Linked DNA regions of Homo sapiens. The protein of the gene in region 2 interacts with the protein of the main gene of each other region in a pairwise test. Each region holds a gene or a part of one and is shown on either strand. Other genes may lie near its edges.

Region 1 (8,351 bases), on a different chromosome or scaffold from region 2:
ACTACAGGAGTGTGCCACCACACTGGATAATTTTTGTATTTTTATTAGACACGGGGTTTCACTATGTTGGCCAGGCTGGTCTCGAACTCCTGACCTCGTGATCTGCCTGCCTCGGCCTTCCAAAGTGCTGGGATTACAGGTGGAAGAGTGTTTCTTAATATACCAAAACAAATCCCACCAAAACATCTTGTTATATTTTACTTCATCAACAATGTAAAAAGTGAGTGTCCAGAGTACCGAGTGCTGTTTACCGTGTAAGCACAACAAATGGTGCTATATACTAATATTTTAATATAATATTCTGTTATCATATGTTGTGATCTTTTATATGCCCCTCCTTCAAAAACATAAACCACAAAAATCCACCAAAAGCTACAAGAAGAATCCAATCCCTAACTAGATACTTGTGTGATTGTTAGGAATAGTAGTTTCAGAAATAACCTCTGCATCACGCCCTACATTCACTGAACTTTTTGGCACTGGCTCTTGGCCTGTCTTCCCCTCCAGCCTAAGTTCCACATATCCTAGGTGATGTCTACTTTTATGTGGATAACACATTCAACAGCCTCCTATTTCCTTGCCTTTATTTATGAATGAATGAACGAATGTGAAGGAACTTAACATTGAACAATCCACACAGGTTCAGAACACTCTTCTACCACAAGGTAAGAGCTACTTTGTGGTTAGTGAGAGTCACATAGAAAAAGTAACAGAAGACCCCCATCTATGACTGCTCCTTATATAAGGCACTATTAACTATACTTACTGGTCTAGGTAAGGCCAGGTTTGCTCCATACCAGTGATAAAGTGCTCTCCACACAGGTTCTGGGACCATTTCATAGTCTCTTCCATGAATCAGCTGTGGAGTTCGTTTTAATCGTCCTCCTTCTAGTGTTAATGATGTAGCCTGAGAAAGAATAGAATGACAATGTTGACTTTCAATATTACAAAAGTTTTTGGGTCTCAGCAATACCTAGAAACAGGAAAACAAACTCATATATCACCACCCAGTTTCATGTTGCTGGAAAAACTTAATTTTTTTTTTTTTTTTTTTTTTGAGACGGGGTCTTGTTCCGTCACCCAGGCTGGAGTACAGTGGCGCGATCTTCGCTTGCTGCAGCCTCCGCCTCCCGGGTTCCAGTGATTCTCCTGCCTCAGCCTCCCGAGTATCTGGGATTACAGGCACACGTCACCATGCCCGGCTAATTTTTGTATTTTTAGTAGAGACGGGGTTTCACCATGTTGGCCAGGCTGGTCTCAAACTCCTAACCTCAGGTGATCTGCCCACCTCAGCCTCCCAAAGTGCTAGGATTACAGGCATGAGCCACCACGTCCAGCAAAAAAACTGAATTTTTAATGAGAGATTTTTATTTTTGACTTTCAAAATAAACTATGTAAGAAATGAAACTCAAAGCATATCATTTGGAAAAATCACTAAAGCACTTGAAATAACTTCACAGATTTCTTTCAAACAATAAAAAATACTAGTTTGGAAAAAAAAATTCATACATAGCGTATGTGAAACAACATTTTCAGAATAGCTGTCCTAAGTAAGAATAACAATAATGCCAAGGGTTACTAAACTACTTCTATGTAAGTTCTAAATCATAAATATTCTCACAGAAATGTACTATACAAAGAGATGTCCATCTATAATACAGTAATTAAATGAACCATCAATGTTTTGCTATGTGCTAAAACCTCTGAAATGAAATTTATTAATAGCTTGCAAGAGAATAATTTTAAGTTTAGATGTAAAATTACTTACCTTTACTGGTTCTTGAGTTACTAATGGCTGATTATCAATAGCCCCTGGTTTCTGAGGGTTAAGGTGCAACAAAATATTCCCATTGGCTCCCAGCAAACACTGGTTGTTATTGTCAGAAGTGTTATGTTGTCGAGCAAAGCAAACATCTGCCCCTGGTGTGGCAGAATACAGAAAGCCTATAAAAAAAAAAGAGGATAGAATCTCTTATTTTTAGTTATTATACATAAACAGGCTTGAGGATATGAACTCAATGCCCATGTATTGTATTACTCTGTTGACATGTCAGTACAGATTAAGATTCTGGTAATTCTGTAGAAGACAGGAAATGTTATCCTTCTCTGAACAATACATGGCATGGTACTAAAAATAAGAGCTTTTAAAATTATTACCAAATGAACATTTGGCCACCCTCCTAGAATATCTAATAATTCATAATGAGAATTATATGTCCTCCGACTGGAAGGGAAGAGCTGGGCTAAGTGGCTGGGCTTCTACATAGCATCCTTTAATTATTTTCCTCAAACTAGAAAAATATTCCAAATGTTCTTGGTAGATAATGGTGATATGAAGTCACTAAATTAAAAGAAAACTAAAACAAGAACTCCAACAAAAGAGTAATGGGGGCTAGATCCTATTGTATCTATGAACTCAATGTCCACAAGTTCTTTTGAAAGAAATACATGATCTTTACAATACGAAAATATGCACAGAAGATGATTAACCATGGCTTAGAGTTGTGAGCCTCAGTGGTATTTTAAGCCATTTCAACTCTCAACTACATGCTAATCTTTGGTAAACAATCTAGCAGTCATCACTTTGTAACCTTCTGCCTGTGGTATGCAGCCTTTGGGTGTCACAAGTTATATGGTAAGCACATACCAAACAGGATCTTTAGATGGGGTTAAGAAATAATCCTCATGTTAAAGCTGATGACAGCACTTCTAGGACTGCTAAGTGATCTTTGTAATACCAGAAAGGGAGGGAAGAAGCAGATTCTACAAGGAGCTTTGTGAAGAAAATGCTAGCTCTGTCCAATTTGCTTACACCTTCCACAGAAAAGGAAAAGAACATCTTGGAAGAAATAATAACACACGCCAGGAGGAATGGCTCATGCCTGTAATCTCAGCACTTTGGGAGGCCAAGGCTGGAGGACTGCTTGAAGCCAGAAGACTGCAACCAGCACAGGCAACATGAGACCTCGTCTCTACAAAACAATTAAAAAATTAGCTGTGTGTGGCAGTGTACACCTGTAGTCCCAGCTACCAGGTAGGCTAAGACAGGAGGATCATTTGAGCCCAGGAACTGGAGGTTACAGTGAGCTATGATCATGCCATTGCACTACAGCCTGGGCAACAGAGTGACACCCTGTCTCTTTAAGTAAATAAATAAATAACAATAGGGTAAGATTGAGGGTTCTGCTACTGTACCAGAATAACAGCAATCAACTCAATTCAGCTGGGCCATAGAAATACCACAGCATCTTCCTTGTAGGTGTGGAAACATGAAGTTTTAGGTAAGTACCAAGGCCTAAAGGGAATTATGGGAGGCATCTGAATTCTTTCTCAGTATTTTAACAAAATAATCTCCATATTTTGGCCTGAAATATACATAGAATCTGATGTGGGGTGCATTTAATTTAATTATGTTTATGGCTAGAGAGAGTCCTGGAGATGACTATCTTTGAAAATTTAAATTTACTGACTAAATAATTTAATAGCAATAGGGAAAGATGGGGCTTGATTGATGAAAATAGTGAAAATAGCCGCATGTGATGGCTCATGCCTGTAATCCCAGCACTTTGAGAGGCTGAGGCCAGAGGACTGCTTGAGCCTGGGAGTTTGAGACCAGCCTGGGCAACATGGCAAAACCCTATCCCTAAAATAAAAACACACAAAAAATGGCTGGGCATGGTGGCGCGTGCCTGTAGTCCCAGCTTCTTAGGAGGCTGAGGTGGGAGAATTGCTTGGGGCCAGGAGGCAGAGGCTGCAGTAAGCCGTGATTATGCCACTGTACTCCAGCCTGGGTGACAGAGCGAGATCCTGTCTCAAAAGAAAATAGTGAAAATATTTCCATATTGAGAGATTTAATGAAGTATAATATGGAAAAGAGGTTTTCTTTGTAAAAATACTAATATATTCAAGAATTTTACAATTGACCATTTCATTCAAAACTTATTTCTGTTAATGGAAGCCTGATCTCCTATTACCATATTCACTACAGCCTCTGTCAAATTAGACTGCCTTAATAACTATCCATGGGGAGGCCAGGCATGGTGGCTCACGCCTGTAATCCCAGCACTTTGGGAGGCCGAGGCAGGCAGATCACGAGGTTGGGAGTTCAAGACCAGCCTGGCCAACATAGTGAAACCCCATCTCTACTAAAAAAATACAAAAATTAGCCAGGCGTGGTGGCGGGTGCCTGTAATCGCAGCTACTCAGGAGGCTGAGGCAGGACAATCGCTTGAACCCAGAAGGTGGAGGTTGCAGTGAGCAGAGATCGCGCCACTGCGCTCCAGCCTGGGCAAAATGTGAAACTCAGTCTCAAAAAAAAAAAAAAAAAAGAAAAGAAAAGAAAGACCTATCCAGGGGGAATAAACCAATAAACCTCAGGGGAATAGGTCATATTTACCGCTGCCAGCAGTTTCTGAGGCTTCAGATGCAGTAGAAATGTTGTCTGAAAATTTCTCTTCTGTAGTATTCACGTAACTGAGGCTGCTTCCAATTCTATCTTCGACCTGCTCCATAGGATGGGCTGCAGTTCCAAATGAGTATTTTCCTCCATTCAAAACAGATGATGGCTCAATTACCACAGGGTTGGCATCCTAAAATCAGGAAATCAGAGAATAAGAAGCAAAGTTTATAATCTGACAACTATGTAGTCTTCAGAAACAAATCTCACAATTATCTATTTTTTTAAGTCTCCTGTGGTTGGCCACAGACATTTAAAAACATTCTAATACATAGCTATATTTTAATCTCTTTCAGGAGGAAAAGTATGTATATAGATAAAATTGGCAAGGTAGACAAAACAGACTGTGAAGGATTTTGTGCCACATAAAGTAATTTACACTCTATTCTGTTGGCAGCCATTTTTTTAACATTAAAAGTAAATAAAGCTTAAATTTTTTTCTTTTCTTCCTTATTTCCCATAGTACATGAATGTATATAATTTTTTTATTATTAAAGATTACATGGTCAATGTAGAAAATATAGAAAACATGAAGAAAATATCACATGTACTCAGATTCCATCATTTAGCAATAACTGTGTTTTAGTTCTTATGACTGAAAAATATGTATATATGTAAAAGATGAGTGGTGTATGTACATAGAGTGAAGGGCAATGCTATGACTTATACCTATGTGACCTTCTACAATAACTGAACACACCTTTAATCCCAGCACTTTGGGAGACCGAGGCAGATGGATCACTTGAGGTCAGGAGGCCAAAATGGTGAAATCCCATCTCTACTAAAAATACAAAAATTAGCTGGGGGTGGTGGAGGGCTCCTGTAATCCCAGCTACTCGGGAGGCTGAGGCAAGAGAATCACTTGAACCCGGGAGGTTGCAGTAAGCTGAGATTGCGCCACTGTACTCCAGCCTAGGCAACAGAGTGAGACTCTGTCTCAAAAAAAAAAAAAAAAAAAAAAATCATATTTTTTTCTTTCACCAAACATTGTATTGTTTATATAGTGCTAATATGCTAATCTAACATTTCATATTTTCTCTATTTCTCTTTTTAACAAAGAGAGAACAATCCTAAATAGCAGAGTCTTCAAAAGGCAACACTATTAGCTGGAATTTAATAATATTATTGCCTTCTATTTCTGGCAAGCGACACTAGTTTTCTTTTCTTTTTTTCTTTTTTTTTTTTTTTTGAGACGGAGTCTTACTCTGTCACCCAGGCTAGAGTGCAGTGGCGTGATCTCGGGTCACTGCAACCTCCACCTCCCAGGTTCAGGAGATTCTCCTGCCTCAGCCTCCCGAGTAACTGGAATTACAGGTGCATGCCACCAAGCCCAGATAATTTTTGTAGTTTTCATAGAGATAGGGTTTCACCATACTGGCCAGGCTGGTCTTGAATTCCTGACCTCAGGTTATCTGCCCGCCTGGGCCTCCCAAAGTGCTGGAATTACAGGCGTGAGCCACCATGCCCATTCAGTTTTTCTTTTCTTTTTTTTTTTTTTGAGACAGGGTCTCGCTATGTTGGCTAGGTCAGTCTTGAACTCCCGGCCTCAAGCAATACTCCTGCCTGGGCCTCCCAAAGGGCTAGGATTAAAGGCGTGAGCCACTGTGCCCAGTGGACATAAGTTTTCTACTTAAAGTAGTGATATAAAGTTTCCTTTGAAAATATGATTAAATAACTAATTAATCACAAACAGTTATAAATTTCTTTGTTCCTTGTCTGTTACCACTGCTTCACTTTAGTAGCCAAAAAATTTTTTTAAATTTTAAGTAAAAATGGCATAATTATTTATGTAAGTTAACTGTATGGCATTACATGAGAAAAATGGTGACCATAGTTTAAAAAAATGATTAAGAAGTAGGAATCTATATTACATATGAATTTTGGACCATCAATTTTTAAAATTTAGATGGTTCACCAAAGTAGTCAAAATTCTTTTTTTTTTTTTGAGACAGAGTCAAGCTCTGTCGCCCAGGCTGGAGGTCAGTGGTGCAGTCTCGGCTCACAGCAACCTCCGCCTCTAGCTTCAAATGATTCTCCTGCCTCAGCCTCCTGAGTAGCTGGAACTACAGGCACCTGCCACCACACACAGCTAATTTATGTATTTTTAATAGAGACAGGGTTTCACCATGCTGGCCTCAAACTCCTGAACACAAGTGATCCACCTGCCTTGGCCTCCCAGTGTGCTGGGATTACAGGCGTGACCCACTGTGCCTGGCCTAGAAACCAAAATCCTGTAGACAAGACAGTAGAACCAAAATGATCTATGTCAAAAAAGAAGTATAAATTAGTCCTAAGTGTTAATTTTCTTAAAGATAATATCAAGCTTCTCACAGCTTTTCTAATATGGAATTCATACCAACACAAAATACATGACATTTAAATTAGGTTTCTTTTTTCTTTTTCTTTTTTTTTTTTTTTTTAATTAAAACAAGTTTTGGCCAGGGATGGTGGCTCATGTCTGTAATCCCTGCACTTTGGGAGCCAAGGTGGCTGGATCACTTGAGCTCAGGAGAGTTGGAGACCAGCCCGAGCAACGTGGATAGATCCCGTCTTTACAAAAAAATATTAAAAAAAAATAGTGGGGCATGGTGGTGTGCACCTTTAGTCCCCAGTAACTTGAGAGGCTGAGGTGGGAGGATGGCCTCAACCCAGGGGGTGGAGGTTGAAGTGAGTTGAGATCATGCCACTGCACTCCAGCCAGAGCAACAGAGCGAGACTCTTTGTTTTTTTTGTTTTTGTTTTTTTTTTTGGTAGAAATGGAGTCTTACTGTATTGCCCAGGCTGGTCTCAAACTCTAGCCTCAGGTAATCCTCCTGCCTCAGTCACCCAAAGTGGTGGGATTACAGGTGTGAGCCACCTCACCTGGTTAAATTAGGTTTCAAAAGAAAATTTTCCATAAACATAAATGCCTTATTATTTAAATCAATTCAACTTTTTTTTTTCACTTATGCTTTTTGATTTTTTTAGTCTGGAGTATAGCAAAGGCTCTTTTTTTAATACAGGGTCTTGCTCAGTCGCCTATAGCTCACTATACCCTTGAACTCCTGAGCTCAAGTGATCCTTCCACCTCAGCTAGGACCACAGGCATGCATCACCATGCCCAACTAATTTTTAAAGTTTTCATAGAGATGGGGTCTCAATATGTTACCCAGACTGGTCTCAAACTCCTGGAGGATCCAAACAATCCTCCTGCCTTGGCCTCCCAAAGTACTAGGATTACAGGCATGAGTCACCCGGCCAAAGGCATTTTTTCATTTTTAAAGTTCTCTATGTGATCTCACTACATATGCAGCCAGAATTAATAACTATTGCCCTAGTGAGGATTATAGTCTCATGCATTTGTTTTTATAATGTGCTCCAGATGTTAAGAGCTTAGAAATTGACTTGTTATTAAATCTGCTACCTGCTCTGGAACTTGTGTTTTAGAAGAAGATTTAGATTTATTTAGTTTTCAGGTCATTTGCTTCCTGCCCATAAAGATGGAGCAAGACAGACAGCAAAACCATTTTGAAAGAGTAACAGCGCCACCTTTGAGAAAAATTAAAGTCTTCCAAGTCACTTTGTTTTCCTCCAGAAAAATCACTTTAGTTTTGCTATAAGTGATCTTAAATGATGTTTCAATAACCATCACATTTTTGGCAAGGTAATCCGTTTATAAATTTATACTCACTTCTATATTCCATTTATATAAAGTTGATGCATTACAAATTACTTTTTTTTTCCTTCTTTTTTTGAGACAGAGTCTCGCTTTGTTGCCCAGGCTGGAGTGCAGTGGTGCAATGTTGGGTCACTGCAACCTCTGCCTCCTGGGTTCAAGCAATTCTCCTGCCTCAGCCTCCGGAGTAGCTGGGATTACAGGCACGCACCACTGCGCCTGGCTAATTTTTGTATTTCT
Region 2 (7,909 bases):
AGAGAGCCCCTGGGTCAAGAGAAAACTGTGGGAAGACAGACACGGGAGAAGGAGCAGGGCCACATGGTAGGAGAGTTTGGGGGAGAAGCTGCCAGGGGGTAACAACCGGGTGCCAAGAGGTTTGGGGGCCAGGGCCCAGGAGGACCCCAGGTCTGCATGAGGGGCCTGGAAGGCTCAGTCCAGCTTGGCGAAGCCCCCAATGGTGACTTTCCTCTCAGGCTTAGTGCCCACTGGCTCCTGGAGCTGTACTGCGCCACCCCCGATGAAGCAAAAGGCAGGGCACACAGGCCCTGAGCAGTCCAGGGGGCACTCCAAGAGCCCACGGAAGGAAACAGCATCCAGGAAGGAAACCCGGCCCCGCTCATAGTCCAGGCAGATGCCCAGGCGGGGTGGCAGGGGCACTGTGCAGCCGGCTGTGGGGCCATCCCTCCCTGTCAGCCCTGCGTTTGAGCTTGCCCCCGACCCCAGCAGGATCTTGCCCATGCCAATGGTTAGGAAAGCGAAGGGTGGCGACGCCTCCACTGTGGCATCCTCGGCACCGCTGTCGTGCCCGCTGTCCGGGTCGTACCTGCAGAAGCGGGTGTTGGGGACGAGATTGTTGAGGGATGGAGTGACGGATGAGGTACCAGAGGGAGACGCTGGAAGGATGGAATGTTAAGGAGCAAGAGGTTGAAGGGATGGATTTTGGGTGTTGAGAAGAAAACGCTGAAGAGGCAGGGGTTAGAGTATAGGGTCAGGGGTTTGGGTTTGGTGGAAAGAGAGCACTGAGAGGAAAGCACATTGGCAAGAGAGGGGCAGGCGGACAGGAAAGACATGGCATTGGTATAGCCCGCGGAAAGGCATTGAGAAAAATGGTCTTGGGGAAATCATGCTGGGGAGATGGTTCTGAGGATTAGAGGACATTGGAAGAATCCGAGATTAGTGACTAAGAAGAGAAAGGATGTTGGGAAGGTGGGTGTCGGGAGAGAGATGAGGGTGGATTGGTGTCACAAATGAAGGGTGTTAGAGGTATGCGGGGTTGGGGACAATGGGGTTTAGGAGGGGTTTGTGTTGGGGAGAAAGCATTTTGAAGAAATAAGGTGTTGGGGGATAGAGTGCTGGGGAGAAGGCTTAGGATGCAAAGCATTAGTGGGAGGGTGTTAAATAGGGAGTTGGGGCCAGGCACAGTGGCTCACGCCTGTAATCCCAGCACTTTGGGAGGCCAAGGTGGGCGGATCACGAGGTCAGGAGATTGAGACCATCCTGGCTAACACGGTGAAAGCCCGTCTCTACTAAAAATACAAAAAATTAGCTGGGCATGGTGGCGGGTGCCTGTAGTCCCAGCTACTCGGGAGGCTGAGGCAGGAGAATGGTGTGAACCCGGGAGGTGGAGCTTGCAGTGAGCGGAGATCGCGCCGCTAGACTCCAGCCTGAGCGACAGAGCGAGACTCCATTTCAAAAAAAAAAAAAAACAGGGAGTTGGGGAGAGGAGGGTTATGGAGGTGGGATGTTTAAGGGAAGAATTTTTTTTTTTTTTTTTTTGAGAAGGAGTTTTGCTTTTGTCGCCCAGGCTGCAGTGCAATGACACAATCTTGGCTCACCGCAACCTCCACCTCCCGGGTTCAAGTGATTCTCCTGCCTCAGCCTCACGAGTAGCCGGGGTTACAGGCATGCGCTACCACGCCCAGCTATTTTTTTTGTATTTTTAGTAGAGATGGGGTCACTCCATGTTGGTCAAGCTGGTCTCGAACTCTCGACCTCCAGTGATTTGCCTGCCTCAGCCTCCCAAAGTGCTGGGATTACAGGCGTGAGCCACCGCATCCGGCTAAGGGAAGAATTTTAAGATACGGGTGAAGGAGGTCTTGGAGAGCAAAGGTTTTATGGAGAAGGTATGTTGGAAATGGAGTGTTAGGAAGAAAGGACACAGATGCTTGGAGAGATGGTGTGTTGATCCAGAGTGACAGATGGTTGGAAGGAAGCAGAGATGGCTCCCTCTTCTATCATCCCTTTCCCTGACCACACGACATGCTCTGAAAATCAGTCCTCAAAAGCCCTTTTGCTGAGCCCATGCGTCTCCTGGACACAGGCCTCCCAGCCTGGCTTCCAGGCTCCTACTACTTCCTCCTAATCCCCTCCCAGCCCCACCCTAGCAAGTCTGTGCTCCACTTGCCACCCCTTCTGTGCCCCTCACTCCCACCAGGACCCCCACACCCCATCCCTTCCAGAGGGGTCTGACCTGGGGCTGATCACATCGGGGGCACCCTGGAAACTTTCTTGAAGCTTGCTCTCCAGCCCGACGCCCACCTTGACCAAGTAGGAGGCTGGGTCTACGGCGCAGGCCCAGTAGCTGCGGCCCTGGGTCACAGCCACGTCGCCCAGGACCACATCCACACTCAGGTGGCAGCCGGTCAGCAGCCGGTCAGCAGCCAGCAGCAGGGGCAGCCCTGGAACACTCCGTACTGCTCGCTGGTCCTTGCTGATAGCCAGCCGCTCTCGGCTTGCGCCCCAGCGGCTATCGAGGAAGAAGTGCAGGACTGGAAGGAGGGAGAGGGTTGAGATGGAGCAAGAACTTCAGGGACAAACACTGGCACTGGGGGCTGTGAGACTGCAGAACAGGGAACGCGTTGCAAGGGGGTTCAGTCACCAGGAACAGGCAGGGGGTTCAGGAGAACAGGACATGGGAAACTGGAATGGGGGGCATGAGGAAAAAAGAAGGGGGCATTCCAAATGGGCGTGGGACCCCAGAGAGTTTTTGTGATGGCAGTGGGCACAGAAGTCAGTGCTCCGGACCTGGCTGACTCATGGGGCTCCCTCGAACCCCTTACTTGTGGCCAGCCCCATGGACAGTTCCCACTATTCTGTTCCACCTGGTGACATTCCCATCACCATCAATCTGTGCCTTCCAGCCCATACTCTGGGTTCACACCTGGCCCTTATACCCAGCCCCTATTTGGGTGGCAAGGCTTCCCTCTTATGCCCACCCCCTGGAGTCCGAACTATTTTCTAGTCACTTTAGTAACATTCTTGAGCCCTAACCATGAGCCGGACACTGTACTCAGACTCCCATTGATCGTCTCAAACCAGTTGAATTCTTGCAACTCTATGAGGTAAGCATTATCATTTTTTAAAAATATATATATGTTTTTGAGACGGAGTCTCACACTGTTCCCCAGGCTGGAGTGCAGTGGCGCAATCTTGGCTCACTGCAACCCCTGCCTCCCAGGTTCAAGCCATTCTCCTGCCTCAGCCTTCCAAGTAGCTGGGATTACAGGCGCCTGCAACCACACCCAGCTAATTATTTTCATTTTCATTTTTAGTAGAGACGGGGTTTCACTATGTTGGCCAGGCTGGTCTTGAACGCCTGACCTCGTGATCCATCCACCTCGGCCTCCCAAAGTGCTGGGATTACAGGCGTGAGCCACTGTGCCCAGCCAAAAATAATTTATTTTTTACGTATTTTATTTACTTATTTATTGAGACAGAGTTTCACTCTTGTTGCTCAGGCTGAAGTGCAATGGCGCGATCTCGGCTCACCGCAACCTCCGCCTCCTGGGTTCAAGCAATTCTCCTGCCTCAGCCTCCCAAGTAGCTGGGATTACAGGCATGCGCCACCACACCCAGCTAATGTTGTATTTTTAGTAGAGATGGGGTTTCTCCATGTTGGTCAGGCTGGTCTCAAACTCCCAACCTCAGGGGATCCACCCACCTTGGCCTCCCAAAGTGCTGGGATTACAGGTGTGAGCCACCTTGCCTGGCCTTTATTTATTTATTTATTTATTTATTTTTCCGAGACGTCGGAGTCTTGCTCTGTTGTCCAGGCTGGAGTCCAGTGGCGCGATCTCAGCTCACTGCAACCTCCGCCTCCCAGGTTCAAGCGATTCTCCTACCTCAGCCTCCCGAGTAGCTGGAATTGTAGGCACGCACCACCACGCCTGGCTAAGTTTTGTATTCCTAGTAGAGACGGGGTTTCACCATGTTGGCCAGGCTGGTCTCAAACTCTTGACCTTGTGATCCGCCCGCCTCGGCCTCCCAAAGTGCTGGGATTACAGGCATGAGCTACCTCGCCTGGCCTATTTATTTTTTTAGAGATCGGGTCTCGCTGTGTTGGCCAGGTTGGTCTTGAACTCCTGGCCTCAAGCAATCCTCCCTCCTTGGCCTCCCAAAGTGCTAGGATTACAGGCATGAGCCGCTGCACCTGGCCAGTATTATCGTTATCCCTACAGAAAAGGACTCTGAAGTTCAGAGAGGGTAAAAACTTGCCAGAAGCCACCCACACAGTTGGCAAGAGGCAGAGCTGGGATTTGAACCCAAGCAGTCTAGCTCCAGAGCTAGTGTGTGTGAGACCTACTATGTTATATGGCCTCTCTAGCGGCCACCGGAACCAACCGTCAGGGCCTAGGCCCTGGCATACCCCATGCCCTTTGCACGACCACCTGTGCCTGCCCACTCACCAGGTGCCGGGGGCGTGTGCAGGTGCACATCTTCACTGTATTCGCCGTAGCCGGCCTTGTTGCAGCCGCGGACACGCAGCACATACACAGAGCCCGTGTCGGGGTTCTCAAGCAGGGCACTGGTGCCCCTCACCTCCTCCCGCCGCTGCCAGCGGGTGGGGCCTGGCTGAGCAGGCACATCCGTGCGCCGGAACTCAACGGTATAGTGCCAGGCAGGTGGTGAATGGGGGGGCAGCCGCCAGCACAGGAAGATCTGATCATAGGCAAAGGTGCGCTGGGTGTCAATGACGGGGGCCTCAGGCACTGTTGGAAGAGACAGCGGGTGTCAGTCAGGGCCTGGCCACTGGCCTGGCATGGAGGGCAGGGGCAGGCAGGAAAAGGGAAAGCAGCGGGAGCCGGGGGGGTGAGTGTGGGTGAGAGGGAGCTGGGGAAGGGCTCATCTGGGAACTGGGCACAGGAGGGGTAGGGCAGGGCCCAAGAGAGAACGAGGCAGGAAAGCGCTGGGCTGGGGGTCAGGACACCTGTGTGCTAGTTCTGGGCTGCTGCTACCTCACTCTGGCCTGGAATAAGTCACTTCCCCTTTCTGGGCCTCAGTTTCCTCCCCTGTCAAATGAGGGTATCAGATCAGGTAAGTTCTGGGGGCCCTTGCAGCTCAGTTATTCTATGAATTAAGAGGAGCCCCAGGGAGGGGCAGGCAAAGGCCACTGGAGCCCACAGGCAAGAGGGCGCTGAGCAGGAAGGAAGGGGACCAGGCTCAGAAGAGAGATTTAGGAGGCAGCGAGGTGGAAAGTGGGGACAACAGAGGGACAGCAAAAGCTGAGGGCAGGGGTTGGAGGTCAAGGGAAAGGAAGTGCAAGGCCAGAGGGCAAGGGTCACAAGGACAAAAGGTCAGAAGGGCCAGGATTACGCAAGCGCCTGAAGAAGGCAGAAGGGAGACAGGGCATTGGTCCAGTGGGAGGACCACGAGGTCGGGGCAAGGCAGGAAAGAGAAGGAAGCAATGAGTGGTTGGCTGAGATGCGTGGGAGCAGCGGGGTGGGAAGGGGGCCCGGCGGCGGGCAGGGCCCCCGGGGCAGGGCCGCTGACTTGCCTGGGGTGCTCCGGAGCAGAGTCCGCGGTGGCCACAGCCTACAAACAAAGAGAGGGAGAAGCAGCGCTGAGCGCGGTAGGACGGTGTGGCAGGGTGGGCTGGGTGGGAGGAATGGCTGGCCAGGCCGGGCAGGAGGCCGGGGAGGTCCCCGGTAGGCACTGCCCCCCGGGCCCGCTGCTGGGGAGGAAGGGAAGAAGGCTCTGGTTGGGCATGGGGCCTGGCCATCTCCTTACCTCGCAGGAAGTTAAGCTCTGTCAGCAGCTTCATCTCACGTCCCACGTCGAGCTGGCAATGGCGGAAGGAGGAGCTGGCAGCTGGCCGGAATGTCTGGAGGGCTTCAGTGGCTCGGGCAATCCTGGGATGGGGGCAAGAAAGGGTCAGGCACTGCCATGTGGGCAGTCTCCCTTCCCCTCAATTCTGTCTTGCTTGCCCCTAGAGCCTTGGGAACTGCTTTGGGAGCTGGTATCAGTTTGGCCTCATGAGAATCCTTAGAATGCCAGTTCTCCACCTGGCAGTACTGTAGACATTGTCCTAGATGTTGGTCACATCCATGATGTCCCTGCCCCCCTAGGAGCCCATGCCCCTGAGTACCTGTTGTGCAGCTGCTTGGCGGCTTGCACAAAGCAAGGCTGGTCTGTTTCCTTAAGTACTTCCTGGGCATAGCCCACCAGACCTGAGCCATCCAGCAGGCTCCGGTGCTCCTGGATCTGGGCGCTGAGACGGGCCAGCCGCTCCTGCTGGCATTCTTCAATGGCCTGAAGCAGTGATGCCCGCTTCTCCTCCAGCACAGCCCCCAGCCCCCGCACCAGCTGCGACACCTCCTCCTTGGCCTGCTGACCACTCACCTGCCCAGGGAGCAACACCCAAAGGATGCGTGACTTACTATCTTCTTTTTGGAGGCAGCACTTGTGCTGGCCTCCTTGGATGCCACAGCATGGCTAAGGTCACAAGGGATCTGGGGAAATCCTACTCACCCATTCCTACAGGGCCTGGGCTCATGGCTGCAAAGGCACCTCTAGATGGACTCAACTCCTGGTCATTTGTGCCAACCTTCCCGGAACCCCACATCATAATCTCTGCCCCTTAGTGACTCATCCAAATGAACGAGGCCATGGCTACCCTAATGTCCACTTGGACTGCACTAATTAATGTCCACTGGCATCTATGCCATCCTTAGTTGTCCATCCCCATGTCAGCCAGCTCAAGCAACCTGGCAGAAGGTATCAGTCATCACCTCACTCTAGCACTGGGAATGCGTGACATCCTCGGTAGGCACCTGAGCCTGAGAGCATCTGAGCTACGCGTGGGGTTTTTTGAGCTATGCATGGGGTTTTTCGAGCACTCTCCTGAGCTATAGCCACCCTGCCCCCTCCTGCAGCCCAGGTACAGCCTGGCCTGGGGCACTGGTGTTCCTGCAAACCTGGTTTAACCAGAACCTGGACACCTCACGGGCTTCCTGAGCTAGCAACAAGGTGATTGGGTCATGATCACCCACACCCCCTTCCTGCCCCTACTCCCAGGCAGGGCCCAGGGCCTACCTCTGTGCCCTCCCTCACCTCGGTGTGCCTCACGGCCTCCTCCAGCTCACAGATCTGGGTCTGTACCGTGTCCTGGTTTCCCAGGATGTATGTCAGGCTCTTTGTCAGCTTGTCCTGAGGGGGAAGAAAGAGGTGGGCATCAAGCCCAGCTCTGCAGAAGCCAGCAGTTGGGAGGAGGTGCAAGAGGGTAAGAGTGTGAGTTAGCACTAGGGTTGGATAAGGGGGGTCCTTACCTTGAGGGCCTGGTAGGCACTGAGCACTGGTGTGATCTTGTGCCCGCTGTGGGTGCGCCGCACCCGGCAGAGTTGACATACCAGGCGTTGGCATGTCTTGCAGTAGTGGGTCACCTCTTCCTTGTGGTCTGGGCACATAAGGCCCTAGGGACACAAAGAACAATGTGATGGTCAGACAATGGTGTGGGTAAGGGTGCTATGCTACCACTACAGCAGTTTGGTGCCCTCCTCCACTGGCAAGATGGGAGTGGAGACATCCGCTGGTGGTGCTCCACAGTGCCACCTGGTGGTACATACTGGCATCAAAGAGCCTTTCCTGCAGTCTCCGGGCGGTGCCCATTTCACCAGCATTGCACCTCCCTTCATCTCTCTCATTGGGATATATGGTAATAACAGTAATAATGATGCCAATTAATCTTTGCCTGGTAGTTAATAATTAACCTTGTCCATCTTGTTTACTGCTGTATCTCCAACACCTAGAATAGCACCATGCACATAGGTGCTCAATAAATATTTGTTCAGTGAGTGAATGCACACAGACCTTTTCAGTGTGCAGGTAACACTTTTTAGTGAACAAACATTATCTCACACCATCCTCTCAGCAACCCTTTAGGTATGGA
Region 3 (7,474 bases), about 91 Mb from region 2:
TGGTCCAGGAGATCAGATCTTCCACTTCCTCTTCCCTGGGCTCATCTGTGTCATTTTCATATAATGAAGTGTCACTCTTCCACCCCTCCTCTTCTGTTTCATAAATGTCTGTGATGCTATTTATTGCAGTTGGTGACTCAAGAAAAATTTCATCTGTGGTGGGAATTATAAAAAATAGAAATTTAATAGACATAATAAGAAAAACAATAAAAAGAGAAGTGTTCCTGCATTTGTAGGATAATGCCAAAGACCATCTGAATGAATGTGAGCAACCTTTTATACACTTTCTAAACTTCATGTTTTGTAAGTAACTTTATTTGTCAAAAATCATTCTTTCCATTTTGCTCAATCTTTTGATGCTTTGTTAGTTCATTCATTTAGCATATATATTTACTGGGTCTCTGCTAAGGGCCAGTTGATGTGCAAGGGAAAAGCTGCTTTGGGAGCACAGGGAGGGAATCACTGTGTCTAAGTGAAAACTGAGTCGGACTTTGAAACAGGAAGACCAGTTTGTTAGACAGAGAAGGGAGGTCAGAACATGTTAGATAGAAGAAACAGCACACATCGTATAAGCACAAAGGTATGAGAGGACTTGACAGGGTTAGGGGTGATCAGAATGGATTCTCCCGCGCTTCCACTGTGCCAGGTGCGGTGCTAACCCGTCGACAGCTATAATATTATTTAACTCAGACACAACCCTTGTGATGGGCAGGTATTATTATTCTTATTTTACAGATGAGGAAACTGAGGCTGAGCAACCTATAGTAACTTGATCAAAGATATCCAGCTAATAACAAGACTCGTCCCAGATCTGTCTATCCAAAAACACAATGTTATAGTATACAGAAAGTTTCGTGGAGCTGGAAGGGAGGCTGAAGCCAGATCAGGAAAGCCTCATATGTCATGCAAAGGACTTTCATCTTTATCTTATAGGCCTTGTAAACAGGGAAATAAACTGATTATACTTTTCAAAAGGAGAATATAGATATAATGTCTATATTTCTAGATGTATATTTCTACACAGCATGGGGACCTTGCTTTCTGGGGATGAACTCTAGCTGGTACTATTTATGTTCTGTTAACTCTAAAATCTCACTGCATTCTCTTCCCTTTTTCCTAGTTGTCACCGGATTCACTGCTGATTATGGGTTCCAGGACAAATTTTGTTTGCCTCATATGTTTATTTCCCTCACACATGAAATAAACCCTGTAATATTTGCTGTCTTCTAATGTTATAGACATGGGCTACAAGTGACTTGTTTTCCTTCTGTCTTTGGTTTATAGAAAGATACACAGACAGACCGGGCATGGTGGCTTACACCTGTAATCCCAGCATTTTGGGAAGCCAAGGCAGGTGGATCCCTTGAGGTCACGGGTTCGAGACCAGCCTGCCCAACATGGTGAAACCCTGTCTCTACTAAAATACAAAAATTAGCCGGGTGTGGTGGCAGGAGCCTGTAATCTCAGCTGCTCTGGAGGCTGAGGCAGGAGACTCACTTGAACCCGGAAGGCAGAGGTTGCAGTGAGCTGAGATTGACCCACTGCACTCCAGCCTGGGTGACAGAGTGAGACTCCCTCTCAAAACAAAACAAAGAGAGAAAGATACACAGAGAGATGTGAGTTTACACAGTCACCATTATCCTATGGTTATCCTGAGGCCCACAGTGATTTTTAATTTTTTGTACTTTCGGTACTAATATTTAGTTGTAATTAATTTAAAACTAAATTCTGTCTGTGCCTTGAGAAAAGCATCTATTTATTTTCCATGAACATATTATTGATGGACTAACTCCAGTTCTTTCTAACCATGCTTGGGCCTTTCTGACTCCACATGCTTTTGATTACAAGAAATATAAAGCCAAGTCAACCCAGTTTAAACAATAGGAGAGTGTTTTATCTCACATAAGAGAAAAGCCAGAGTGGAGAGCAAGACTGAATGTTTTCAGTGACTCCACAATGTCACGAAGGACACAGCTCTTCTTACTGCTTGCTTTGCTAACTGAGGTGTTGTCTTCATCTTCAGGTGCATAGCAAGAGAGCTACGGCCATTCTAGTAACCACACCGGACACAGCAACATCCAGGGGAAAAAGCGATCTTCTCACCAAGATCTCATTTTTAAGAGTGGACGGCAAAACCATCCCCTGAAGTGCCCAGCATATTTCCCCTCAAGCAGGATCCTGTCACATGCCATTTCTTTTATTTTAATTTAATTTAATTTTTTTTTTGAGGCAGGGTTTCACTCCCATTGTCCAGGCTGGAGTGCGGTGGCGTGCTTTCAGCTCACTGCAACCTCTGCCTCCTGGGATCAAGTGATTCTCTCACCTCAGCCTCCCAAGTAACTGGGACTATAGGCATTCACCACCATGCCCAGCTAATTTTTTTTTTAGTAGGGATGGGGTTTTACCATGTTGGCCAGGCTGGTCTCAAACTCCTGACCTCAGGTGATCCACCCACCTTGGCCTCCCAAAGTGTTGGGATTACAGGCGTGAGCCACTGCGCCCCGCCCCATTTCTAAACTAGTTACTGGGAAGGGAAATGGGATCACCATGATTGGCTGACGTGAGTTGCTGGCGTGGAATGAAAGTTGGGAATCAACCACCTTGACTATTTGCCTTCTTAGTTCCTGCCCTGTTAAAAACTCCCAGGAAGCATAAAAAGAAACCTGGCTAGATCAGCAGACTATAATGCAAAATAAATATAGAAATGTTTCTTTAGAACATAAAAAACAATATTATTTTGAATTTCTCTCCTCCAGGAAATCTTAAGCATTATAAATCTCTCTGAGACACCTTGGATTTGGTGGTTGGAATCAGTAATAAAGGTGGGGATTTTGTTACTATGTTAACAAAATAAGTTATGGAAGCACAAATTCTAACTGCCTTATATTTTCCATGCCTTTCTTGGGTTGGATCATGGAAACTCTGCCTCTGATAATTTATTTTTAATCTGAAAATAGTTTAGCTAATAAAGATATTAAAATCTGTGCTGACTGATGGGCTTTGATGATTGCCAAATGGTTTATTTCTATTCAGTCCTGTTTTCAGCCTGGGTTCAGTTAGGAAAACAGAGCCACTACAAGTAATACAAGAGTGAGAGTCTAACACAGGAATGTGGGATTATCCAGCTGTGGGAGGACCCAGGGGAGTGAAGATCTGGAAGCTACAGCTGGAGAATTGAAAAAAGAGTCGTGACCCACTTTAGTCTGATGCACTGACACGAGTGGGAAACCAGGAGCTCATAGAGTACAAGAGGCTGCACACATTTAGCCACCCAAAGTGGGACAAAAACAATGAGTTCATGGGGATATTTGTGCAGCCACCATGTCTGTGAAGTGAGGCTGTGGAGAGATGTGTGAAAATGCCATATCTGAGGAACCCGCCATGCCTGATATGAACAACTTCCCAAGCATAATGTCCTCAACTTCCCTCCCACCTGCCAAATCTCTGGTGAGTTTCTCCCACTGGCAAACTATGACATGCCATCCTTCTCTGCAAAAGAGGGACACACAATTCTTTCCTTTTCTGAGTCATACTTCCCTTTGATATCCTATATAAGTTCATTCTCGCTACATAATAACTCTCTTGCTACATAATAAACAACCACAAAATCTTAGTGACATACAGCAATAAGTATTTGTTTTGGTCACATGTCAGCAGGTCAATAGGTGGTTGGCTTCTTTGGCTGGGGAATGGCTGGGAAACGTGGGTGGGCAAGCTCAGATCTATGCCTTGAATCTTTCTCTGTGATCAGAGGGCCAGTCCAGGCACGCTCTGGTGATGATGGCAGAAGAGAAAAAGAGCAAGCCAAATCATGCAAACCCTTTCCAAACCCTGGGGGCACACTGCACCCACTAATATTCCACTGATGAAAACAGGTCACAGGGAAAAGCTCAAAGTCAAGGCACAAGGAAACATGTTTTGTTCATGTAGGTGGAGCAGGAATTAATATTTCTGAACAATAATCAAATTTACCACAACCTCTCAGGTATAGTTTCTTCCAGAGTAGACAGAAAGGAGTCTATTCCATGATTAAAGAGGACAAGGCTCAGCACTGGAGCGCTAACCAGTTTCTGGACATTAAACTTAAAATGTTGTCTCTTCCAACTTGCCTTTTCCCCACTTATCATGGGTTTTCACCTTTTTTTCCCCCAAATCACAAGGCAGATAAAAACATGACAATTTTACTTCATCCTACTATTTACTTACTCATTGATAGCTACTGTATGCCAACCACTGTGCTGTGGAAGACTGGGAGGTGAGCAGTCCCTTCCCTCAAGAATCTCACTCTTTTTCAAAGGAGACAGGCAGTAAAGAGAGTAATAACACAGCATGTGTGCCGGACAGACTCCAAGATGGCCCCTAGAATCCCTGCATCCTGGTATTTACACCTGAGTGTAAACTCCTCCTTTCTGAGTGTGGATAGGACCCATGACTTCTAACCAATAAAATAGGATGCAAGTGATAAGGTCTCACTCACATGATTATGTTACATCACATATGACTCCATCTTGCTATCAGACTTGCTCTAAAGACTCTTGCTGGATAAAGTAGGAGGCCAGGCTGGGAGAGCCCATATGGCAAGGAACTGTGTGCAGCCCTCAGCAGCTGAGGGAGGCCTCCCACATATACCCAGCCAGAAGCCAGGGCCCTCATTCCTAAAGACAGAAGAAAATGGATTCTGTCGACAACCTCACTGGGCTGGGAAGCAGATTCCTCCCCCATTCAAACCACTAGGATGAGAATGCAGCCCAGCCAAAGCCTTGATTGCAGCTTTCTGAGACCTTAAGCAGAGGATTCAGCTAAGCTGTGCCTGTACTCCAGGCCCACAGAAACAGTAAAATAATAAATGTGTGTTGTTTTAAACCATTCAATGTGTGCTAATTTGTGACACAGCAATAGAAAACAAATAGAGCATGATACGGCTATGGTAGAAGTGCTATGATAACCCACAAAGAAAGTTTCCTAAAAAAGGTAATACCCGAACTGAATCTCAAAGGATGCATAGGCATTAGAAAGTAAAGAAGGGGAGAGAAGAGCATTTAGAGTAGGGGTATGAGAAAACACAGTGTACTGCTCAAATTTTTTTATGAAATGAGGTAGGGAACAAACAATCATGACCCACTAGCTTAGTGTAGCATTTAGGTTGTGAAGGGGAGAGGGAGGGAATGTCACTGCAAAGACAGAGACAAGTATTAGAGCATTAAGGATTTTCTGTGTCAAAGAGTCTAAATTTTATCCTGAAGGAAAATGGGAAACAAAGTATTTTAGACCTGGTAAAAACATAAGCAGAGCTGAGCTATAGAGACATAGCTTTGTCACCAGTCTGACAAAGCATAGACAAAAATTACTGTAATCACATCAACTTAACCAACTGATCTCTTCCACTGGTGAACATGGTGGGGATGTTGAAAGACAGAGATTGCAGAGGGGAGTAGGGAAATCATGGAGAAAGCAAAGAGCAAGGCTGGAGAAGGCAACATTTCCTACCTCACAGGTACCCTGAAATCTGGAAGAAGGGAGAGTTGAATGGAGAAGGCTGAGGCTGATAATACAGAGGAGGAAATCTGCGTGGCACACCAAACAATTAGGAGGGAGAGAGGTGGATACTGAGCAGGGAAAAGAAACTTGGAGATACGGGGGCAGGGCCCTTGGAGAATCACTGAATGAAGGTGATTGCCTGTGCCTGGCATTTATATGCTGTTATGTTTAGTGGCCAGGTGACAGGAAAAAACAGTAACTATTTTTTTTTGTACTTTTCAGTTCACAAAGAAATTGTCTATACATGGAGTCACTTAGTCATAAGAATCCTGTGAGTAAGGGCAGATTTTTAGCAACTAGGATTTGTTGAACATCTTCCACATACACAGTACTAGCTAAGGATGAAAAAAACTAAGTTCAGAGGTTGAGTGACCTTTCCATAGTAGCACAGAACTGGAATCTGAACCTAAGTTCTCTATCCCCAAATGTCATGCTTTCCCCTCTATACCAGCTGACTTCCATGGTAAGTTACCAGCTCTCCCGGCTGAAGACTCACTCTCAACCTATCCCAACAAGTAAATGGTAATTTTTAAAAGAGCACGAAAAACAACTCAGCATTGTTTCTTTCTTTTCAACCATATTGCATATACCTTTGAATATACAATGAGTTTTAGGGATCAGTTTATTAGTGCTCTGTGTGTTTTGGCTGCTTTTTCATATTTTGAAACTTAGCCTTAAAATTTCAAATTGTATATCAACCTATTAAAGGGTAGTAAGCTTGAAAATATAAGTAACTCAATTCTGTCAAAGTTCCAATTCCTATGTGACTAATTTACCAAATTAATTTGGAAAGTCAGAAAAAGTTAAAGCAACCTTAAAAGGAGAACACAAGGATTAGCCCTCATATATTCCAACTTACTTAAATGGAAAAAAGTTTAAAGTTATGCATATTATGCATAATATGTTATTTATAAAAGCAAAACAAATAGAGTGAATCGATTTACTTAGAGTTGGGCAGAGCTTAATTTCTTCCATTGAGTGAGTGACTTCATGAGGCATTCTTTTTCTAGCAAGCCAACACTTGATAACGGAATACCTAGAAAGAGAAAAAGAAAACTAAATTCCCAAATGAATTTTGGTAAGGGTATATTTACTTCTGAGAAAAATAAGTGAAACAAATGAAATGAAACATAAAAGTAGAACAATAGGCTTTGAATATGGAACCATTCTGAGTCTTGACTAATTTAATGGTAAAGTAAAATTATTTCAATATGTGCTTTCCAACAGAATAGAAGTTGGAAAAGCAAATGAATATGACATGTTTACTACTTATGTCATAGTAAAAAACATCATAGTAAAAGTAATAAAAACATCATGTGGTATAGCAAGGTATATTAGTTTCCTTGGGCCACCTTAACAAATGACCACAAACTTGGTGACTTAAAATAACAGAAATGTATTCTCTCATAGTTCTGGAAGCTAGATGTTGGGGATCAAGGTGGCAGCAGGGCCTCCCTCCCTCGGAAAGCCCTAGGGAAGAATCTTCTATTGCCTCTTCCTAGCTTCTGCTGGCTGTCAGCAATCCTTTACATTGTATGGCTTATAGCTGCATCACTCCAGTCTCTGCTTCCAATGTCACATGACCTTTTCCGTGTGGGTCTCTGTAGTTCTGCTCTCTTATAAGGACAACAGTCATTGGACTCAGGGTCCACCTAAATCTAGTATAGCCTCATCTTAACTAATTACTATTTATATCTGCAAAGACCCTATTTTGAAATAAGGTCATATGCTGAGGTTCTGGGGGGACAGGTGTTTGTTTTGTGGGGACATGATTCAACCCACTACACAGGGGAGAAATTCTATCAGAAAAATTAATGACTCATCCTGGATAAAACAACAGGCTTATGGGAGACATCAATGAGCCCAAGTCAAGCTATTAGAGCATTTCCTTGGAGAAAGAGTTTACATATGGAAATCAAAAATTTTACAAAATTTT
Region 4 (5,042 bases), on a different chromosome or scaffold from region 2:
CTCCTACGCTGTTGGTGTTGGGGTGGGTGAACAGACATAGTACGAGAGCTGGAGAGAGCCTTAAGAAATCTTAGTCAATTATCCAAGTCTCCCATTTCTTTTTCTTTCTTTTTTTTTTTTTTTTTGAGGTGGAGTCTGGCTCCATCGCCAAGGCTAGAGTGCAACGTGATCTCGGGTCACTGCAACCTTCACCTCCCAGGTTCAAGCAAAATTCTTGTGCCTCAGTCTCCTAAGTAGCTGGGACCACAGGCACGCACCACTACATCTGGCTAATTTTTGTATTTTTAGTAGAGGCAGGATTTCACTGTGTTGGCCAGGCTGGTCTCAAACTCCTGATCTCAAGTGATCTGTCTGCCTCGGCCTACCAAAGTACTGGGATCACAGGCATGAGCCATTGCGCCAGGCCCCACGAGTATCCCATTTCTAAGCAAGACCACCAGTAAGATGATCCAAACACCCAAGAACTGATTCTCCAGGACAGGAGAATTCTCATTCTCTTACCAACCAGGTGGTTTACATTAGTCTATCTATAATTTTTGTCTTTTTTTTTTTTTTTTTTTTGAGACAGAATCTTGTTCTGTTGCCCAGGCTGGAGTGCAGTAGTGCAATCTCAGTTTACTGCAACCTCTGCCTCCCAGGTTCAAGCATTTCTCATCCCTCAGCTTCCCAAGTAGCTGAGATTACAGGCATGAGCCATCATGCCTGGCTAATTTTTGTATTTTTAGTAGAGATGGGGTTTCACCATGTTGGCCAGGCTGGTCTTGGACTCCTGGCCTCAAGAGATCTGTCCACCTCTGCCTCCCAAAGTGCTGGGATTATAGGCATAAGCCACCGCACCTGGCTGTCTATCTACAATTTGGTCAATGATAGCCTCCTTCCTTAAAACAAGCCTAAATTTTGAGTTCTTATGGGAAGCAAAAGCACACTTTTCCCAGTAGAGGCAAAGAATGAACAATGGTTATCATCTTTGAATAGGAATCTTTCAACATGTGACACTACAGGTATGTTGTTTCTCTAAGCTACTGTTTCTGTGATCAACCCTCAGGGCTGGGAACAGAATTTAAATAGAGGATTCATATAATCCCTAAGATTCTGGGAGGGCTGAACGCATCTTAGCTTCAAAACACTATGGGCTGGGTGCAGTGGCTCACACCTGTAATAATCTCAGCCTCCCAGTTTGGAGGCTAAGGGAGGAGGATCACCTGAACCCAGGAGTTGCCTGGGCAATAGAGTGGGACCCTATCTCTACAACCAAACAAAACAAAACAGGGCCTGTAATCCCAGCACTTTGGGAGGCCGAGGGAGGTAGATCACTTGAGGTGAGGAGTTCAAGACTAGCCTGGCCAACATGGTGAAACCCCGTCTCTACTAAAAACACAAAAAATTAGCTGGGCATGATGGCGTATGCCTGTAATCCCAACTACTTGGGAGGCTGAAGTTGCAATGAGCTGAGATTGCTCTAGCCTGAGCAACAGAGCAAGACTCTGTCTCAAAAAACAAAACAAAACAAAAACTAGCTGTGGTGGTGCACACCTGTAAGTCCCAGCTTGGGAGGCTGAGGTGGGAGGACTGCTTGAGCTTGGGAGTTTGGAGTTGCAGTGAGCTGTGACCCAGCTACTGCACTCCAGCCTGAGTAACAGAGTGAGAACCTGCCTTTAAAAAAAAAAAAAAAAGAGGCTACTGACCAAGGAAAGTAAAGAGTTCCCTATGACTTCATGAAAATCAGTCTCCTCTCTGGCTCTCAGTCCCTCAAATGATATAGGTTGCTTTTAGCTTTTTTTTTTGAGACCGAGTTTCGCTCTTGTTGCCCAGACTGGAGTGCACTCAGCTCACTGCAACCTCGGCCTCCCAGGTTCAAGCGATTCTCCTGCCTCAGCCTCCCAAGTAGCCGGGATTATAGGCACATGCTACCACGCTGAGCCAATTTTTTGTGTTTTTAGTAGAGGCGGGGTTTCATCATGTTGGCCAGGCTGGTCTCACACTCCCGACCTCAGGTGATCTGCCCACCTCAGCCTCCCAAAGTGCTGGGATTACAGGCGTGAGCCACCGCGCCTGGCTATTTTTTTTTTTTTTTTTTTTTTTTTTTGAGACAGAGTCTCGGTCTGTTGTCCAGGCTGAAGTGCAGTGGCACAATTTCAGCTCACTGCAACTTCTGCCTCCTGGGTTCAAGTGATTCTCCTGCCTCAGCCTCCTGAGTAGATGGGACTACAGGTACACGCCACGATGCCCGGCTAATTTTTTGTATTTTTAGTAGAGACGGGGTTTCACCGTGTTAGCCAGGATGGTCTCAATTTCCCGACCTCGTGATCCGCCCGCCTTGGCCTCCCAAAGTGCTGGGATTACAGGCATGAGCCACTGAACCCAGGCTTAGCTGTGTCATTCTATGACAGCTGTCGATGCCACGCTTGTGGGGGGCTTTTACATGGCCAGCTGTAGGGCTTCTGCAATTAGCAGCAGGGGTTGTATTACCTGCATAGTTTGGCCTTGAAGGTGCAGGCGATCTTTGCAGGCCACCTCGTAGAAGTCGTAATACTCCAGAAAGGACTTCTCCATCACCCCTCTGGAAAACAAGCAGAAAAGTGTAAGTGAGAAACCCAGGGGTACAGGTCACCCCTTCCTTACCTAACCTTTTTTTTTTTTCAGATGGAGTCTTGCTCTGTAGCCCATGTTGGAGTGCAGTGGTGCAACCTCAGCTCACTGTGACCTCTGCCTCCCGGATTCATGCAATTCTCCTGCCTCAGCCTCCTGAGAAGCTGGGATTACAGGCATATGCCACCACGCCTGGCTAATTTTTGTTTTTAGTAGAGACGGGGTTTCACCATGTTGCCCAGGCTGGTCAGGAACTCCTGACCTCAACTGATCTGCCTGCGTCGGCCTCCCAAAGTGCTAGGACTACAGGCGCAAGCCACCACACCTGGCCTCTTTACCTAACCTTAATGCCAAATTAAATACCTACCATTCCCAAGTCCAGATCTGTTTTCTACAAAGATCTTTTCATTTTATTTATTTTTTATTTTTTTGAGACTGAGTCTCGCTCTTTTGCCCAGGCTGGAATACAGTGGCGCAATCTCGGCTCACTGCAACCTCCGCCTCCCAGGTTCAAGTGATTCTCATGCTTCAGCCTCCTGAGTAGCTGGGATTACAGGTGCGTGCCACCACACCCGGGTAATTTTTGTATTTTTAGTAAAGATGTGGTTTCACCATGTTGGTCAGGCTGGTCTTGAACTCCTGACCTGGTGATCTGCCTTCCTTGGCCTCCCAAAGTGCTGGGATTACAGTTCCTTTTGGAAAAAGGAACACCTAACTGCCCGTGGTTGACTTCCCCTACACATCAGGAATTATGAGTGTGACTGTAATATTCACCATTAGTTTTCTTTTTGAGGCAGGGTCTTGCTGTGTTACCCAGGCTGGAGTGCAGTGGTGTCATCACAGCTCACTGCAGCCTCAACCTCTTAGGCTCAAGCAATCCTCCCACCTCAGCCTCCTGACTGGCTGTGACTGCAGGAGCGTGCCATCACACCTGGCTAATTTTAAAATTTCTGTAGAGATGGGGTCTCCCTGTGTTGCCCAGGCTGGTCTCGAACTCTTGGGCTCAAGTGATCCTCCCGCCTCAGCCTCCCAAAGTACTAGGATTACAGGCGTGAGCCACCACCAAGCCAATACTCACCATTTGAATCCCAACTTCAACTCATGACTTGCTCCACCTCCATTGCTTTTCATCAGCCATCCCCAATCCCAAACCTTACTCAAAATTCTCCTAGAAGTTTATTTATTTAACCCTGACGTTGCTCATCCAGTTTTGGCACTTAAAAATAACTTCAGCACTAAGAAATGAGTCTTATTATGAAGTACTCTACACATTTGGCTGGAAAAAAGTACGTCCAAGCCTTCATCAAACTGGAAGCTCCCTGAGCGTGTGGACTGCCTCTCCCAAAGGCATGGCATTCTCCAACAACAGAGTAGCTCTCTGAACTTCCTCTTGGGTAACCCTCAGCCACTTGTTCTTTAAAAGCAGGAACCACATCTTTCCTTCTTCTCTATCTCCCTCTGGTACCCAACACTGTACTCTGCCCCAAAGATGCCAACTACCCAAATGCCCGAAAGGAATACCAAGCAAGCCCGCTTGACACATACCGTAGGGGTTCAGGACAGGGACACTTTCCTTCCATCATGTCACAGACTGCAACTCTGATGGTCTCGTGCCGGATACATTCATTATAGTTTTTGCTGTCTCCTGGATGTCTCTCCTATAATGTAACAGATGCCAGAGTATTCCAAAAATTAAGCAAAAAGAAAACCAATGGGAAGGGACTTCAAGATTAGTATGGGGTATGTCAGCCAGTCACACAAACTAAAAAGATACCTTTCCCACTGTATGGCAGATCCATGAAGAGCAACCACACCTTTATTTTTGACACCATTCACCTCCACCACCCTCCAAATATACCAACAGGTTACAGGTCATTTGGCCTATCACCAGCAAACTAGATCCATCATATTTTCCTGAATGTGAAGTGAAAGGTCTATCAAGTAAAGATTATGTGGGAAATAACCAAACATAAGAATGATGGTAGGGTTGCTAAGCCTGGTGGCATAAACTAATAGTCCCAGCTACTCAGGAAGCCAAGGTGTGAGGATCACTTGAGCCCAAGAGTTTGGGTTCAGCCTAGACAACAAAGTAAGTTCCTGTTTTTTCAGTTTTTCTTTTTGGAGACAGGGTCTTTGCTGTTGCCCAGGCTGGAGTGCAGCGGCACCATCACAGCTAACTGCAGCCTTGACTTCCTGGGCTCCAGCAATCCTCAAACTCCTGGGCTCTAGCGATCCTCCCACCTCAGCCTCCTGAGTAGCTGGGACTAAAGACATTCGTCACCATGGTGGGCCCCGAGTTTTTATTTTTTATTATTTATTTGTTTTTTTGAGTTTTGCTCGTCACCCAGGCTGGAGTGCAATGGCACGATCTCAGCTCACTGCAACCTCCGCCTCCTGGGTTCAAGCGATTCTCCTGTCTCAAGCCTTCCAAGTAGCTGGGATTACAGGCGCCT

The links.
Region 1: the proteins of TRIM46 (region 2) and USP32 interact in a two-hybrid assay, tested with the Homo sapiens proteins (one large-scale study listed by BioGRID).
Region 3: the proteins of TRIM46 (region 2) and UBE2U interact in a two-hybrid assay, tested with the Homo sapiens proteins (one large-scale study listed by BioGRID and IntAct).
Region 4: the proteins of TRIM46 (region 2) and UBE2Z interact in a two-hybrid assay, tested with the Homo sapiens proteins (one large-scale study listed by BioGRID and IntAct).

Annotation. Positions count from the first base shown.
Region 1 is NC_000017.11:60,221,643-60,229,993, forward strand, and holds part of USP32 (ubiquitin carboxyl-terminal hydrolase 32), read right to left. Parts: intron 4,590-8,351; coding exon 4,397-4,589; intron 1,945-4,396; coding exon 1,769-1,944; intron 908-1,768; coding exon 767-907; intron 1-766. UniProt on the Homo sapiens protein: Deubiquitinase that can remove conjugated ubiquitin from target proteins, such as RAB7A and LAMTOR1.
Region 2 is NC_000001.11:155,176,456-155,184,364, reverse strand, and holds part of TRIM46 (tripartite motif-containing protein 46), read right to left. Parts: intron 7,434-7,909; coding exon 7,290-7,433; intron 7,171-7,289; coding exon 7,075-7,170; intron 6,364-7,074; coding exon 6,110-6,363; intron 5,874-6,109; coding exon 5,752-5,873; intron 5,557-5,751; exon of another isoform or gene 5,519-5,556; intron 4,734-5,518; coding exon 4,431-4,733; intron 3,931-4,430; coding exon of another isoform or gene 3,863-3,930; exon of another isoform or gene 3,686-3,862; intron 2,514-3,685; coding exon 2,216-2,513; intron 569-2,215; coding exon 175-568; 3' UTR 1-174.
Region 3 is NC_000001.11:64,259,703-64,267,176, reverse strand, and holds part of UBE2U (ubiquitin-conjugating enzyme E2 U), read right to left. Parts: intron 6,575-7,474; coding exon 6,483-6,574; intron 154-6,482; coding exon 1-153. UniProt on the Homo sapiens protein: Catalyzes the covalent attachment of ubiquitin to other proteins.
Region 4 is NC_000017.11:48,920,365-48,925,406, reverse strand, and holds part of UBE2Z (ubiquitin-conjugating enzyme E2 Z), read right to left. Parts: intron 4,248-5,042; coding exon 4,135-4,247; intron 2,561-4,134; coding exon 2,470-2,560; intron 1-2,469. UniProt on the Homo sapiens protein: Catalyzes the covalent attachment of ubiquitin to other proteins. Specific substrate for UBA6, not charged with ubiquitin by UBE1. May be involved in apoptosis regulation.